Linked DNA regions of Homo sapiens. The protein of the gene in region 4 interacts with the protein of the main gene of each other region in a pairwise test. Each region holds a gene or a part of one and is shown on either strand. Other genes may lie near its edges.

Evidence for each region.
Region 1: the proteins of SELE (region 4) and TRIM54 interact in a two-hybrid assay, tested with the Homo sapiens proteins (one large-scale study listed by BioGRID and IntAct).
Region 2: the proteins of SELE (region 4) and WFS1 interact in binary tests that used the Homo sapiens proteins (3 or more experiments, as listed by UniProt).
Region 3: the proteins of SELE (region 4) and SNCA interact in a two-hybrid assay, tested with the Homo sapiens proteins (one large-scale study listed by BioGRID).

What each region holds. Positions count from the first base shown.
Region 1 is NC_000002.12:27,299,426-27,302,994, reverse strand, and holds part of TRIM54 (tripartite motif-containing protein 54), read right to left. Parts: intron 3,466-3,569; coding exon of another isoform or gene 3,340-3,465; intron 1-3,339. UniProt on the Homo sapiens protein: May bind and stabilize microtubules during myotubes formation.
Region 2 is NC_000004.12:6,276,336-6,279,904, reverse strand, and holds part of WFS1 (wolframin), read right to left. Parts: intron 2,455-3,569; 5' UTR 2,450-2,454; coding exon 2,218-2,449; intron 1-2,217. UniProt on the Homo sapiens protein: Participates in the regulation of cellular Ca(2+) homeostasis, at least partly, by modulating the filling state of the endoplasmic reticulum Ca(2+) store.
Region 3 is NC_000004.12:89,827,156-89,830,724, forward strand, and holds part of SNCA (alpha-synuclein), read right to left. Parts: intron 1,030-3,569; coding exon 988-1,029; intron 1-987. UniProt on the Homo sapiens protein: Neuronal protein that plays several roles in synaptic activity such as regulation of synaptic vesicle trafficking and subsequent neurotransmitter release.
Region 4 is NC_000001.11:169,727,560-169,731,128, forward strand, and holds part of SELE (E-selectin precursor), read right to left. Parts: intron 3,059-3,569; coding exon 2,873-3,058; intron 2,115-2,872; coding exon 1,929-2,114; intron 1,816-1,928; coding exon 1,627-1,815; intron 688-1,626; coding exon 499-687; intron 369-498; coding exon 180-368; intron 1-179. UniProt on the Homo sapiens protein: Cell-surface glycoprotein having a role in immunoadhesion. Mediates in the adhesion of blood neutrophils in cytokine-activated endothelium through interaction with SELPLG/PSGL1. May have a role in capillary morphogenesis.

The DNA.
Region 1 (3,569 bases), on a different chromosome or scaffold from region 4:
ACCCACCATACTGAAGTCTCTGCTTTCATCCATTATCGAATTTTATCCTTATAGCTACTTTCACAAGTAGGCATTTTCACCCTAATTTTACACATGAGGAAAGTGAGGGCCACAAAGGTCCAGTAACATACCTAGGTGACACACCAAGTCAAGCACAGAGCTAGGACTTTGACTCCAATCTGCTTGACTTTTATTTTATTTTCGAGACAGAGTTTCACTCTTTTTGCCCAGGCTGGAGTGCAATGGCGCAATCTCAGCTCACTGTAACCTCCGCCTCTGGAGTTCAAGTGATTCTCCTGCCTCAGCCTCCCGAGTAGCTGGGATTACAGGCGACTGCCACCATGCCCAGCTAATTTTGTATTTTTAGTAGAGAAAGGGTTTCACCATGTTGGCCAGGCTGGTTTGGAACTCCTGACCTTAAGTGATCCGTTCACCTTGGCCTCCCAAAGTGCTGGGATTACAGGCATGAGCCACCACGCCTGGCTTAATCTGCTTGATTTTATTTTTATTTACTTATTTTATTTTAGGTATTATTATTATTATTATTTTTAGACGGAGTCTCGCTCTGTCGCCCAGGCTGGAGTGCAGCGGCCCGATCTTGGCTCACTGCAAGCTCTGCCTCCCAGGTAAACAATTCTGCCTCAGCCTCCCGAGTAGCTGGGACTACAGGCGCCTGCCACCACGCCCGGCTAAGTTTTTTGTATTTTTAGTAGAAATGGGGTTTCACCGTGTTAGCCAGGATGGTCCCGATCTCCTGACCTCGTGATCCACCCACTTTGGCCTCCCAAAGTACTGGGATTACAGGCGTGAGCCACCGCGCCTGGCCTATTTATTTATTTTTGGATGGAGTTTTGCTCTTGTTGCCCAGGCTGGAATGCAATAGCGCAATCTCAGCTCACTGCAACCTCCGCCTCCCGGGTTCAAGCGATTCTCCTGTCTCAGCCTCCCAAGTAGCTGGGATTACAGGCACATGCCACCACACCTGGCTAATTTTTGTATTTTTAGTAGAGACAGGGTTTCATTATATTGGTCAGGCTGGTCTCGAACTCCTGATCGCAGGTGATCCGCCCGCCTCGGCCTCTTAAAGTGCTATGATTGCAGGTGTGAGCCACCGCCCGGCCTGCTTGACTTTAAAACTAAGTGGAGTAACGCTTTGGGAGGCTGAGGTGTCAGGGGCGTTTGAACCAGAGCAACTCCATCTTGAATAGGGGCTGGGTAAAATGAGGCTGAGACCTACTGGGCTGCATTCCCAGATGGTTAAGGCATTCTAAGTCATAGGATGAGATAGGAGGTCGGCACAAGATACAGGTCATACAGACCTTGCTGATAAAACAGGTTGCAGTAAGGAAGCCGGCCAAAACCCACCAAAACCAAGACGCCAATGAGAGCGACCTCTGGTGGTCCTCACTGCTACACTCCCATTAGCTCCATGACAGTTTACTAATGCCATGGCAATGTCAGCAAGTGACCGTATATGTTCTAAAAAGGGAAGGCATGAATAATCTACCTCTTGTTTAGCATATCATCAAGAAATAACCACAAAAATGGGCAACCAGGCTGGACCCGGTAGCTCACACCTATAATCCCAGCACTTTGGGAGGCCAAGGAGAGTGGATCACCTGAGTTCAGGAGTTTGAGACCAGCCTGGCCAACATGGTGAAACCCTGTCTCTATTAAAAATACAAAAATTAGCCAGTCATGGTGGCGGATGCCTGTAATCCCAGATACTTGGGAGGCTGTGGCAGGAGAATCGCTTGAATCTGGGAGGCGGAGGTTGTAGTGAGCTGAGATCGCGCCATTGCATTCCAGCCTGGGCGACAAGAGCGAAACTCCATCTAAAAAAAAAAAAAAAAAAAAAAGAGGGCAACCAGCAGCCCTAGGGGCTGCTCTGTCTATGGAGTGGCCATTGTCTTATTCCTTTACTTTCCTAATAAACTTGCTTTCACTTTACTCTATGGACTAGCCCTGAATTCTTTCTTGCGCGAGATCCAATAACCCTGTCTTGGGGTCTGTGTCAAGACCTCTTTCCTCTAACAGAGGCAGGAGGATGGCTTGAGCCCAGGAATTCAAAACAAGCCTGGGCAACACAGTGAGATCTTGTCTCTTTTTAATATTGTATGTTTGTTTTTGAGACAAGGTCTCACTCTATCACCCAGGCTGGAGTGCCGTGGTGCAATCATGGCTCACTGCAGCCTCAACCTCCCGGGCTCAAGTGATCCTCCCACCTCAGCCTCCCGAGTAGCTGGGACTACAGGCATGCCACCATGCCCAGCTAATTTTTTGTAGAGACAAGGGTCTCACTATGTTACACAGCTCAGGCTGGTCTCAAATTCCTGGACTCAAACAATCCCCCTGCCTCGCTCTTCTAAAGTATTATTAGTACTACTACTACTAATAAATATTATTATTAGTACTACTACTACTAATAAATATTATTATTAGTAGTATCCTCCCAAAGGATTACAAGTGTGAGTCACTGTGCCCTGCCTGAGACCCTGTCTCTATGTAAAAATAAAAAATTAGGTTCGGGCGCAGGGGCTCACGCCTGTAATCCCAGCATTTGGGAGGCCAAGGTGGGTGGATCACCTGAGGTCAGGAGTTCCAGACCAGCCTGGCCAACATGGTGAAGCCCCGTCTCTACTAAAAATACAAAAAATTAGCTGGACATGGTGGTAGGCGCCTATAATCCCAGCTACTCTGGAGGCTGAGGCAGGAGAATTGCTTGAACCTGCGAGGCAGAGGTTACAGTGAGCCGAGATCGTGCCATTGCACTCCAGCCTGGGCAACAAGAGCAAAACTCCATCTCAAAATAAATAAATAAACAAATAAATAAATAAATAAAATAAAATAATTAGCTGGTCATGGTGGCACATGCCTGTAGTTCCAGCTACTTGGGAGATTGAGGTGGTAGGGATCACTTGAGCCCAGGAGTTCAAGGCTGCTGCAGTGAATCACAATCATACCAGTGCATTCCAGCCTGCGCGACAGAGATCCCCACATCTCTTAAAAAATAAATAAATGGAGCTGGGCGCAGTGGCTCACACCTGTAATTCCAGCACTCTGGGAGGCCAAGGTGGACGGATCACATGAGGCCAGGAGTCAAAAAAAAACCAAAAAACAAAAAAGCTGGGTGTGGTGGCACATGCCTGTAATCCCAGGTACTTGGAAGGCTGAGGCATAAGAACAGCTTGAACCCGGGAGGCTGAGGTTGCTGTGAGCCAAGACTGCACCACTGCACTCCAGCCTGGGCGACAGAGCGAGACTCCATCTCAAAATATGATAGATAGATAGATAGATAGATAGATAGATAGATAGATAGGGCTGAGTGCGGTGGCTCACATCTATAATCTTAGTGTTCTGCGAGGCTAAGATGGGAGGATCACTTGAGCTCGGGAGATCAAGGCTGCAGTAAGTTGTGTTTGTGCCACTGCACTCCAGCCTGGGCAACAGAGTGAGATCCTGTTTCTAAATAAATAAAGAAATAAGTAAACAAAAGATAAGTGGAGTAAGAGGCTGACACTGAGACCCTGTCCTAAGCCCCCATCTCTCACATATCTACTCCCTCCCCT
Region 2 (3,569 bases), on a different chromosome or scaffold from region 4:
GCTGAAAAGGGGGTCAGTTCCTCAGGGAGGCAACCAGAGAAGGGCAACCCCAAGGCTGCTCTTCTCCTGTTTCCCAAGTGTACAGGCCAAGGAGCAGCTCAGATGGGGCTCCGACGATGCCTCCTCCAGGCAGTCTTCCTGATGCCCTGAAGAGTGACCAGGCCCTCCTGGGGTGCCCCTAGGGGACTGCAATGTGGGTTGTCCCCCGCGCTACATGAGCCCCAGAATGTAGTTCCTTGTTCACTCCTGTCTCCCATATTGCTCAGGGCTCCCGGAGGGCAGGACTGAGCCTTCACTCCTGTCACCAGGGCCTGGCCAGGCACTGATCTAGGGACAGGCCAACCTGCTCTGTGCACTTCTCTGAGCCTGGGACATGGGGATCCCTGGGCGCAGATGACCTGAGGCCCATAGTGAGCACAGGCTCCACGGTATGTTTAAATCTCCCCTCCACCCTTCACCAACCACGGGACGCTGGGTCATCTACTTAAGCCCTCTATCCCTCGGTTTCCCATCTGAAAAACAGGGCAGCAGCAGAGCCTGCCTCCCAGGGCTGTTAAAGAGGCAAGTGGGCTAATGCCCTAAAAAGATGCCTAGCTCGGGGAAGTGTCAGTTAAATAGCTACCCTTGTTGTTACCTATTGGTATTTCAACTGATGCTCACCCACCTATGTTGGCTGGATGGGGGAGCTAAATAACAGATTCTCGCAGCAGCTGCTACTGGCAGGGACCCTGGGCCCTGCCCTCCCTGCGGCCACTGGGCATGCAGGGCCAGGCCTGCTTTGGCCACATCAGTGACCAGTGACTGGGAGACGGGATGCCCACTGCCCCCAGCTGCAGGCCCAGTGGTGGGGACTGGGCTGTCAGGCGGCGCCCAGGGCTTGCTCTTCACCACCCCCACATTGGAGACCGAAGCCAAACAAACCACAGCTGCTTCCTGACTCTTCTTATCTGAAACACACAGTCTTGGACTCTGTCCTTTGCGGGCTGTTCTCATTACCCAGATTGAAACCAAGCTTCCGAGCCCTGGTATCTGTTCCCCTGAAGCCGTGAGGCTGGGCCCAAATCCCGGGGTCAGGCCCTCATCCGCCCAGAGGCCTCCAAAACAAAGCAGAGGAGCACAGTGATCTTTTAAGGAGATGCAAAGACAAACAGGGCCCAGGGCTGCAGTGAGTTTCCAAGGGCACGCCCAGCATAAGTGGTACATGGGAGCCTCAGCGCGCTGCGACCACAGCAGGGAGGCCCCACGGCCCTGCCAGTGGGGTGACTGGGACAAGAAGGAAACCTGGACCACTCGAGCACCTCGTCTCTCACCCGCTGGGTCTCTTGGGCAAGTCACCTAGACTCGGTGTCTCAGTTTCCCCTCTCAGGACTGCCATGAGGAGTCCTGCAGGCACATGGAAAAGGCTGGTGTACACAGCAGGCACTCACCATGGGTCTGGGGCTTCTGCATGGGCAGGAGGGGCAGTGATGAGCTGGGACTGAGCCTCCCTGGCAGCGGCCTCTCTAGCAAAAGTGAAGGCTGACCGAGGCCTGAGTCAGCTGGAGAAGGTGCCCAGGGGCCGGACTCCCCTGGCTCACACCCACCACCCTCACATCACCACCCAGGAACCAACAAGCCTGTCAGCTCTGCCTGTGAACACCAAGGGCCTCAGCTCTGCTTTGAACACCCAGGGCCTCAGTCAGCTCGGCCTGTGAAGACCAAGGGCCTCAGTCAGCTCTGCCTGTGAACACCCAGGGCCCCAGCATCCCGCCTCAGGATGGAGGTGAAGGACGCCCGTCCCTCACAAGTCTCCCTCAGGGAGAGGGGAAACTCAGCACCAAGGGCTTCGCCCGCATGTGGCCTCACTCCCGAGAGTGTGGCTGTCACCTCTGGCCTGCCACCCTAGTTGGTTACAGAGGGCCCGTGAATTTACTCCACATGTTTGGACGCTGTTGCAAATGGAAGCTGTGAAGTGCTGCAGAGGCCCTGGGAAGAGAAGGACTGCAGAGGAGTGGGGGCACCAGCACCACCTCGAGTGGGTGCCACAAAGGTGACAGGTGCAAGGCTCTGAGGAGGTGGGTAGCCCCACTGGATGGACGCCTGTGCACAGCATGGGAGCTGCACAATGCTGAACTGCAGAGGACCTGGCGGGGGGACCCTCCAGGGGTGGCTGAACCCCGTTCCCACCCAGCTATCCCTGAACATCCCCAGCCTGGGCTTCCCAGCCTGCTCCCTTACCGGTGCCGTCTGCTCTTTCCCGGCTCCTGGTATGCTGGGCCTGGGGTTCAGCGGGGGCCGCTGCGTCTCTAACACCAGGGCCAGGGCCAGCCTGGGGTCCGGGTGCTCGGGGCCTTTCGCTCCTCTCCTGCTCCAACGAGGCTGTGGCATTGAGTCGGGAACGCGCCTGGGGCTGCGGTGCTGGCGGGGGCTGTGGGCAGGAGGGGCCCAGCGGAGCAGTGTTGGAGTCCATCCTGCCTGGAAGAAAAGTCAAGGTCAGGCACATCCAGCACCGGCAGAGCCCGCTCTGGCACTTAGTGTCTGCTGGAGACAGAAAAGCAGAGGGAGGCAGGTGGGAGCTGCCAGACACTCCATACAGGATCTCGCTGACACTCAGTACAGTCCCCATGGGCCAGCACCGCTTCCAGGGAGGAAACCATGGGAGGACACTCACCCACGTGACTCTACAGATGGCATGGCACTTACAATCTCAGACCTGCACATGCCGAGGCCTGGAGTCCCTGCCTCACTGGGCATGAGCCACACAACCCTGGCCTTCCCTCATCCAAGAAACGGGGATGATGATAGCAACACCCAGAGCCCACCCATGTGGAGCCTGGCTGCAGGGGGCTGAATTGGGCCCCACATCATGTGCCCACCAATGTCTGTGAATGTGCCCTTATTTGGAAAAACAGGTCTTTGAAGATGTATTTAAGGATCTTGAAATGAGATCAGCCTGGAGTAGGGAAGCCCTGGCTCCAAGAGCTGATGGCCTATAGGAAGAGAAGTGTAACAGAGCCATGCGGAGACGGGTGACAGTGGCCAAGGAGCAGGAGGACCACTGGCCACTGCCAGAAGCTGGACAGAGGCGAGGAACTGAGCCTCCCTCAGAGCCTCCAGGAGGGACCCACCCTGCCCACACCTTGACTTCAGACTTCTGCCTCCAGAACCATCAGAGAACAAACCTCTGTTGTTTTAAGCCACCAAGTTTCCAGTAGTTTCTTACGGAAGCCCTAGAAAACTAATACGCTGGTACTGAGTAAAGTTAAGTAAATATGAGAGGGGAAGGGAGCTGGGGAGGGGAGAAGAGGGCAGGGGAGAGAAGAGAGGGAGCCAAATGGGTGGAGCTGGGATTCATACCCAGATCTGCCGCTCCACAGCCCCCACCCCAGGCCCAAGCCACAGCACCGAAGTCAGAGGACTGATGCCCCAGAAACCAACACAGAGAGTAAAAAGCAAACTAAGGCAAACAGTGCGGTGGGGGCATCAGAAGAGACTAGAGTGAGCAGAGATCCCGTGACCCGTGTCACGCCGGAGCAAGGGCTTTATTTTATTCAACAGAGGCCCTCACATGCTGCTTAGCAACATGGAAA
Region 3 (3,569 bases), on a different chromosome or scaffold from region 4:
AACACACAGCTGGTAAGGAGTAAGCAGGAAGTTGAACCAAGAAGATCTGACTCCTGTGTTTTTAGTCATATCCACAACACTGTATTAAGATTCCCATATCATTGTCCTCATTTCCATTTTAGAAGTCAGTGATAGGAACATTTTATTTGTATAGGCACTATTGTGTTTAATGCTTTCCGATTATATAAATTATATTTCTGATTATATCTTTTGCTTCACCACATCTGCCAGGAAACGTGGAGTACTTACAACAGAAAACTTAATTACAGCAAGTCTGTGGGCTTTTAATTTGTTAAATTTTGGTTCTCCTTTGATTTCTCTATTTCTGGCACTCTCATCCTCATCTTCCTCAACATCTGATGATGATTATCATCCTTTTCATCATTTTTGATATTTCTTGATTGTAAACCTAATTGACTTGTTCAAATTCTCGGTAAATTTAGGCCAAATGAATAATATAATCAGAAATGTAATAATTGCACAATAATATTTGTACAAATAGCTATACCATAACAATACAAAGATAAATACAATAAACATTTTACTGACTGTCCAAGGGTGTTTCCTGAAATGCACTCTGAATTATCAAAGGAATATTGTAATCAACATAATTTAAGGTCAAAATATTTTACTGTAATCAACAGAAATTTTACTTTTTTTAAAATTATGGCAATATTCACATTTTATTTTTGTCAGCAGTTTGTCAATACATTTTTGGTCAGAATATTTAAATGCCCACTTACTATAAATTAAACATAGCTTATCAATTCAAAGCCCTCATTATTCTTGGCAAGTATATTTTTTATTTATAATCAATATTTACCTATTTAAAAATACTTTATAAAGAATTCAGTTTCAATAAGACTGATATGTTCTTAGAATGCTCAGTGATTGTTTTACAATTTCATAGGAATCTTGAATACTGGGCCACACTAATCACTAGATACTTTAAATATCATCTTTGGATATAAGCACAATGGAGCTTACCTGTTGCCACACCATGCACCACTCCCTCCTTGGTTTTGGAGCCTACAAAAACAAATTCAAGACATAAGTCTCAAGCTAGCCTTAAATTGCTGATTAGCTAGTTTTCAATACAACTAATTTAAAAATCTCAATCTTCAGAAGTATATATATTATTATATCTTCAGGGAAAGAAAAAAATATATATATATATCCTAAAACTAGAAGAAGGAACTCCAGTAACCACCACAATAAATAGAAGAAAGCCCAGCTAACAGGAGGTCCTCTCCAATTACGATTTTAGCACAAAATAATGACTTTATCCCCTTTGTTCCCACATCACATGTCAACTTACAGAGGAGAAAAAAGAATGAGATAACACCGGGGCCCAGTGAGAAGATAATTTTGAATTCAGAACTGTAGAAGCTTTAAAAGTACAGCACTAGAGACAGATCAGTCAACCCATGAAACAAAAGGGAAGAAGGATGGAGAGAAGGCTTTAACATGTGCTGAACACCCATTATGTAAAAAAAACATTTTAGGCTGGGCGCAGTGGCTCATGCCTGTAATCCCAGCAATTTGGGAGGCCGAGGTGGGCAGATCACGAGGTCAGGAGATCGAGACCATCCTGGCTAATATGGTGAAACCCCATCTCTACCAAAAATACAAAAAATTAGCCAGGCGTGGTGGCGGGTGCCTGTAGTCCCAGCTACTTGGGAGGGGCTGAGGCAGGAGAATGGCATGAACTCGGGAGGCAGAACTTGCAGTGAGCCAAGATTGTGCCACTGCACTCCAGCCTGGGTAACAGAGCAAGACTCTGTCTCAAAAAAACAAACAGACAAACAAACAAACAAACAAAAAACACATTTTACATATCATCTTATTTAATCTTCATAACAGCCATTTAATATAGTTATATTATGCCCATTTTAAATAGCTGATGAAATTAAAAATCCGAGTTAAGTAATTTATGTAACATTACACATGTAATAATAGGCTATAAGCACATTCAAACTAGGGTCTCTACACAGGATCAGAATTTCTTCCAAACCTTGAACATTACTAAACTTGAATACAAATAATTATTATGTGTATTATTAAAATTATGCTTGTAAAAAATTGTATTCATATCCTCTCTAATGTTGGATTTTTCAGTGTAATTCACACTGTATAATTTATGGAATCGGCATGATTTTTATGTTTTACAGAATTATCATACTCCTTTTTAAGTTTGGATCAGTTTACAAAATGTTATCATTTGCACTTTAATGTCATGATATACTGACAGTGTATTTAACATAAGGTGTATTTTTCAGCAACACTTCCTCTGGGACACCTTCACTCTTTATCACAACCTCTTTCCCCATTATACGGATACCTTCACCTCACTACGTTCCTCTGACTGCATATTTAGAGTCTCCTGAATTGCAGCAGTGACAACATCCTCAGGGTAGCTACTTCCTGTATACATCAACTTATGTTTGATTCAAATTTTACTTCCAGAATGTTTCACTTCCTTTGTTTGCTACTCTTTCATCTTTGCTGGCCAGTTTCCTCTTTTGATTGCGCATTTTCGTGAAACATCACATGGGCTCACCACTGGGAGACAATGTGGCCACACAAGTCCGGGCATTGCTGTCTGTATGAACTGCATAACAGATGTGAAGCAACCAATCTCCAAAAAGCTTTGAAAGAAGTGCTGTGGTTTTGTCACTGATTATAATGGGTTTCTGTTATTTATGTAATGATTTGAAGGCTGAAGAGTTAGCAGCAAAGTTTGTACTTTATGCAATGACTTTCGGTATACTGTGGTAACAGAAATTTGAATTGTGTTGTTAGTGGCTGGTGTTATTTAACTAACCATAGTACCTGGAATTTGTTTGTGCTGGAACTATGCAGAGTGAGAACAGCTGATATTTAAGAGAATATGTTTCAATCTCTATCTCTCATCCTCACCACCTGCACCCCATGTTGTCTTAAAAATGACTAGTAGTAAGAAATGTCTAACAGCTGGAATGCGATCTTTGTTCTTTGCCTTAGCAGTACCTAAGAATTTGACCTTTGGTTAAATTATGAAACATATTCTAAATCAAAGACAATGAGATAGAAGTAGAGAGTAGAATTATGATTATTAGAGGCTGACAACGGTAAGAGGGAGGGGAGGATATGGAGAGGTTGGTTAAAGAATATGAAATTGGAGCCAAATATGAGGAATGAGTTCTAGCATTCTGTAGTACTGTAGGGTGATATACTTAACAATAGTTTATTGCATATGTTCAAAAATCTAGAAGAGAGAATTTTTAATTTTTACTGTTCCCACCACAAAGGAATGATAAATGTTTCAGGTAATGGATATGTTAATTACCCTAATTTGATTATCACACATTGTATACATGTATGGAAATATAATTCTGGATCCCACAATTATATACAATTATTACATATTCACTAAAAATAAAAGAAAAATTAAAAATAGAGTAGCATATGACCCAGCAATCCCTCTTCTGGGTGTAGATCCACAAGAAAAGATTTCAGCATATCTGTTTCCAAGGGCCCCAACACAGTGGCTCTTGCTTGGAATCCCAGTGCTTTGGGAGGCTGAGGCA
Region 4 (3,569 bases):
AAAATCTACTGGAAAACTTCCAAAACTTGCTTAAAAGTCAACAATGAATGTAAAGTGTAAGCGCTACTTAGTTTTCAGCATGTAGGAAATTAGGACCAAACCCCTTTGGGGCAATCTAGGTTCAGAAACTTTATGAAGTATTTGACCTGTACCCTAAAAAAGTCTGCACTCAATTCTACCTTGGCAGGAAGGAACCTCTTCTGTCCATTGTCCCTGAGATGTGCACTCAAGTTGAGTTGATCCATGTAATTCAAATCCCTCCTCACAGCTGAAGGCACAAGAGGACTTGTAGGTGAATTCTCCAATAGGGGAATGAGCACACCTCACCAAACCCTTCGGGGGCTGGTGGACAGCATCGCATCTCACAGCTGGAACACACGAGAGAGCACTTTAGAAGTTTGTTTGCATCTCCAGCAATACGTTTCCCAAGGTAACCAAGTTCCCAAGCTCTTCAATAGTTCTTTTTATCTTAAAATAAAATAAAAACAAAGACTGTACCTTCACATGTGGGCTTCTCGTTGTCCCACTCCCCTGTGGGGCCACATTGGAGCCTTTTGGATCCCTTCAACACAAAACCCTGCTCACAGGAGAACTCACAGCTGGACCCATAACGGAAACTGCCAGAAGCACTAGGAAGACAATTCATGTAGCCTCGCTCGGGGTTGGACAAGGCTGTGCACTGGAAAGCTGAGACATCAAAATGATGGTCAGAAAATATTGCAGTGGAACTAGAGAGTACTTGGCGTTTGTTGAGTGAACCCAGTTCATTCAAGCAACACTTGGAGAACTGAAGATTCTTTATAATTCCCTGGACAAATGGGAAGATGGCTGTGTTTTCTTTGAATTTCAGCCCCCTCACTGATCATGGCACTAATTAAAAGACTAATTAATCAGAACATTAGTTCCTGAGCACTGTTCTTCTAACACACAAAATAAATTATGGTCCAAGGAAAGATTTCACGCAGTCTGAGGACAACATATGGGTCATGGATGTTTATAGATGGTGCCAAAAAGAAAGAAAAGAAAGCACCCCTATAAAATTTGTCTGTTTTGCAGTTTGGTTTTTGTGTTATGTTTTGCTACTGGAAATCATTCTGTGCTGGCTTTGGCTAGGACAAGGCCAGTGCCTGATAGTAAAAACTGCTTGTTTTCAATATCCTTGCTCTCACTTTAAAGTGAATTAAAATTTACTGCTTATATATGCATCAATACTATCTCTGTAGCTGACACCATGCTTGAAACAGTCTCATCACTGCTAATTATGAGCCATTTCAGAAGACAGGTGTGATGAGAGTTTTACATTCAAATCATGTTCTCATTATTCTGCTTTCCGAATTTTCTAATATGATTCCTTTAGATTAAGAATTCTGTCTATTCCATGCTAATGTCTACAAAGTTTTATCAGCACATCACAGTTAAAAAAAAACAGCAAAGAATTCATTCTTAACACATATGATCCTTTCCCTGGCCAAACATTAGTTCTTTTAAATGAATCTCAAAGATACGAGGGTTGCTCATCAAATCTGATTTCTATAGTTAAAGTGGGTATTGGTTTTTTTTTTCACTGTCCAAGTTTGAAGATGGTTGTTCTTTAAGAAAGTATAAATCGAAGGATCTCAAGCTTACCTTCACAAACTGGGATTTGCTGTGTCCACTGCCCTTGAGTGGTGCATTCAACCTGGGCTGGTCCCTGCAACATGAAGCCTTCCTCACAGGTGAAGTTGCAGGATGATTTGAAGGTGAACTCTCCAGCAGGGGAATGGCTGCACCTCACAGAGCCATTCTGAGGCTGGCGGACGGCCCTGCATGTCACAGCTGTAACAAATATACGCATTGATATTAGCACGGCCTAGAATTAGCTTGCCCATTTCCAGTATGGGTTGAGAGAAAGAATGTTCACAGTAAGTCTCCATGTGGAACAACTCTACCTTTACACGTTGGCTTCTCGTTGTCCCAATTCCCAGATGAGGTACACTGAAGGCTCTGGGCTCCCATTAGTTCAAATCCTTCTTCACAGTCAAATGTACAGGTTGTGTTCCATGGGAAGCTTCCAGGGTTTTGGAAACATTCCACGAACCCATTGGCTGGATTTGTCACAGCATCACACTCAACCACTGAGGATTTTAAAGAGCACCATGAATTTTACAGAAGAATGATCTTTTCACTTCCTATTGAGCTGGGTGCCTAACAGAGTGAGGAAGCTGCCTTCAAAGGGTAGATCCCAAAGTCCTATGTCAATTCTTAGGGACATGCACAGCCAGAATAAAAGCTTTTATTCTTTTTCATGGATATTCTATCTTTTCTGATTTCCACTTTGCCTATGCTGAGTGGTCTCTAATCTATGTTATCATTTACGTGAGGTAAAAATTTAAAAAAAATAGATTCCAGATTAGGAGTTATGACTAGTACTGACATACGTAGGCTATTCATTTATTTTAGCCCATCAGAGCCTGAAGAACTGATTTTTCTTTTTTTGGCCTCTGGTTCAGAAAGATAAAATTAAGAGAGAAAAAGAGATACTAAGACTGCTTGACTATCATGGTCTTAAGTTAGTCCCATGGCTTGGAAAAGTTAAACAGGGAAACAAGATGAGAAATCCATTGAGATTTCTAGAGCTTTATTGTTTTATGGTCTCCCTTACAAATCACCAGAGCCTCAGAAACACCCATTTCAAGCATAGAATAAAAAAACCTCTCTCAACCCAAGCAGGTACTGGGTTGGCAATATACATTGGCTGAGAGAACAAATTGTATTAAAAACAAAAACAAAAAAAAAACTTTCCCTGAAGTTTTGAAAATGTAAGTTGAATCAAAAAACAGAAGCAATGAGGGATGAGTTACAGAACGTTCTGTGCATTCTCAGAGGGATTTACCATTGCAGGCTGGAATAGGAGCACTCCATTCTCCAGAGGACATACACTGCATGGTCTCCATGCTGCTTGGCAGGTAACCCCTATCACAGCTGATAGAGCAGGAAGAATTGTAGCTGAAGTTTCCCAGTGGGTGACTGCAAACCAGGCTTCCATGCTCAGGGGATTCCAGGGCTGTACAGTTCACAACTGAAAAAGAAACCCAAATCAGTTCTGCTCATCTCTCACCTTTAACAGATAAGAACACTGGAAACTAGAACTACAGTTTGGTTTTTTTTTTTTTTAGTTTAAAAATTTATAAAATTTCTAATGGAATTTGTAAAATTGACTGTAATTCTACCCCTTTTCTTTTATTCAAGAAAATGCTGATCCATAACAACAACAACAAAAAAGCAGTGATGACAACCATAAAAAAGAAATATTGAGTGATATGGGGAGAGTAGTGTAATTGTGTTTACCTCAAAACTGTTCAAATTATATGAACAAACACAGCAAACTTAGGTACCACAACAAATTTCTTGTTACTTTTCTCACAACTGCTAAAAATACTACAGTAAGCTTCCAACCAGGATGAGAACCATTCACAAAGCTATATTTCAAATTTAAGTACTAGAATACATTACAAATTTTAAAACCCTAATGCTGCACTGTCTACTATAGTAGCCACTATCTGTGTGGCTACTCAAATTTAAACTTGAAT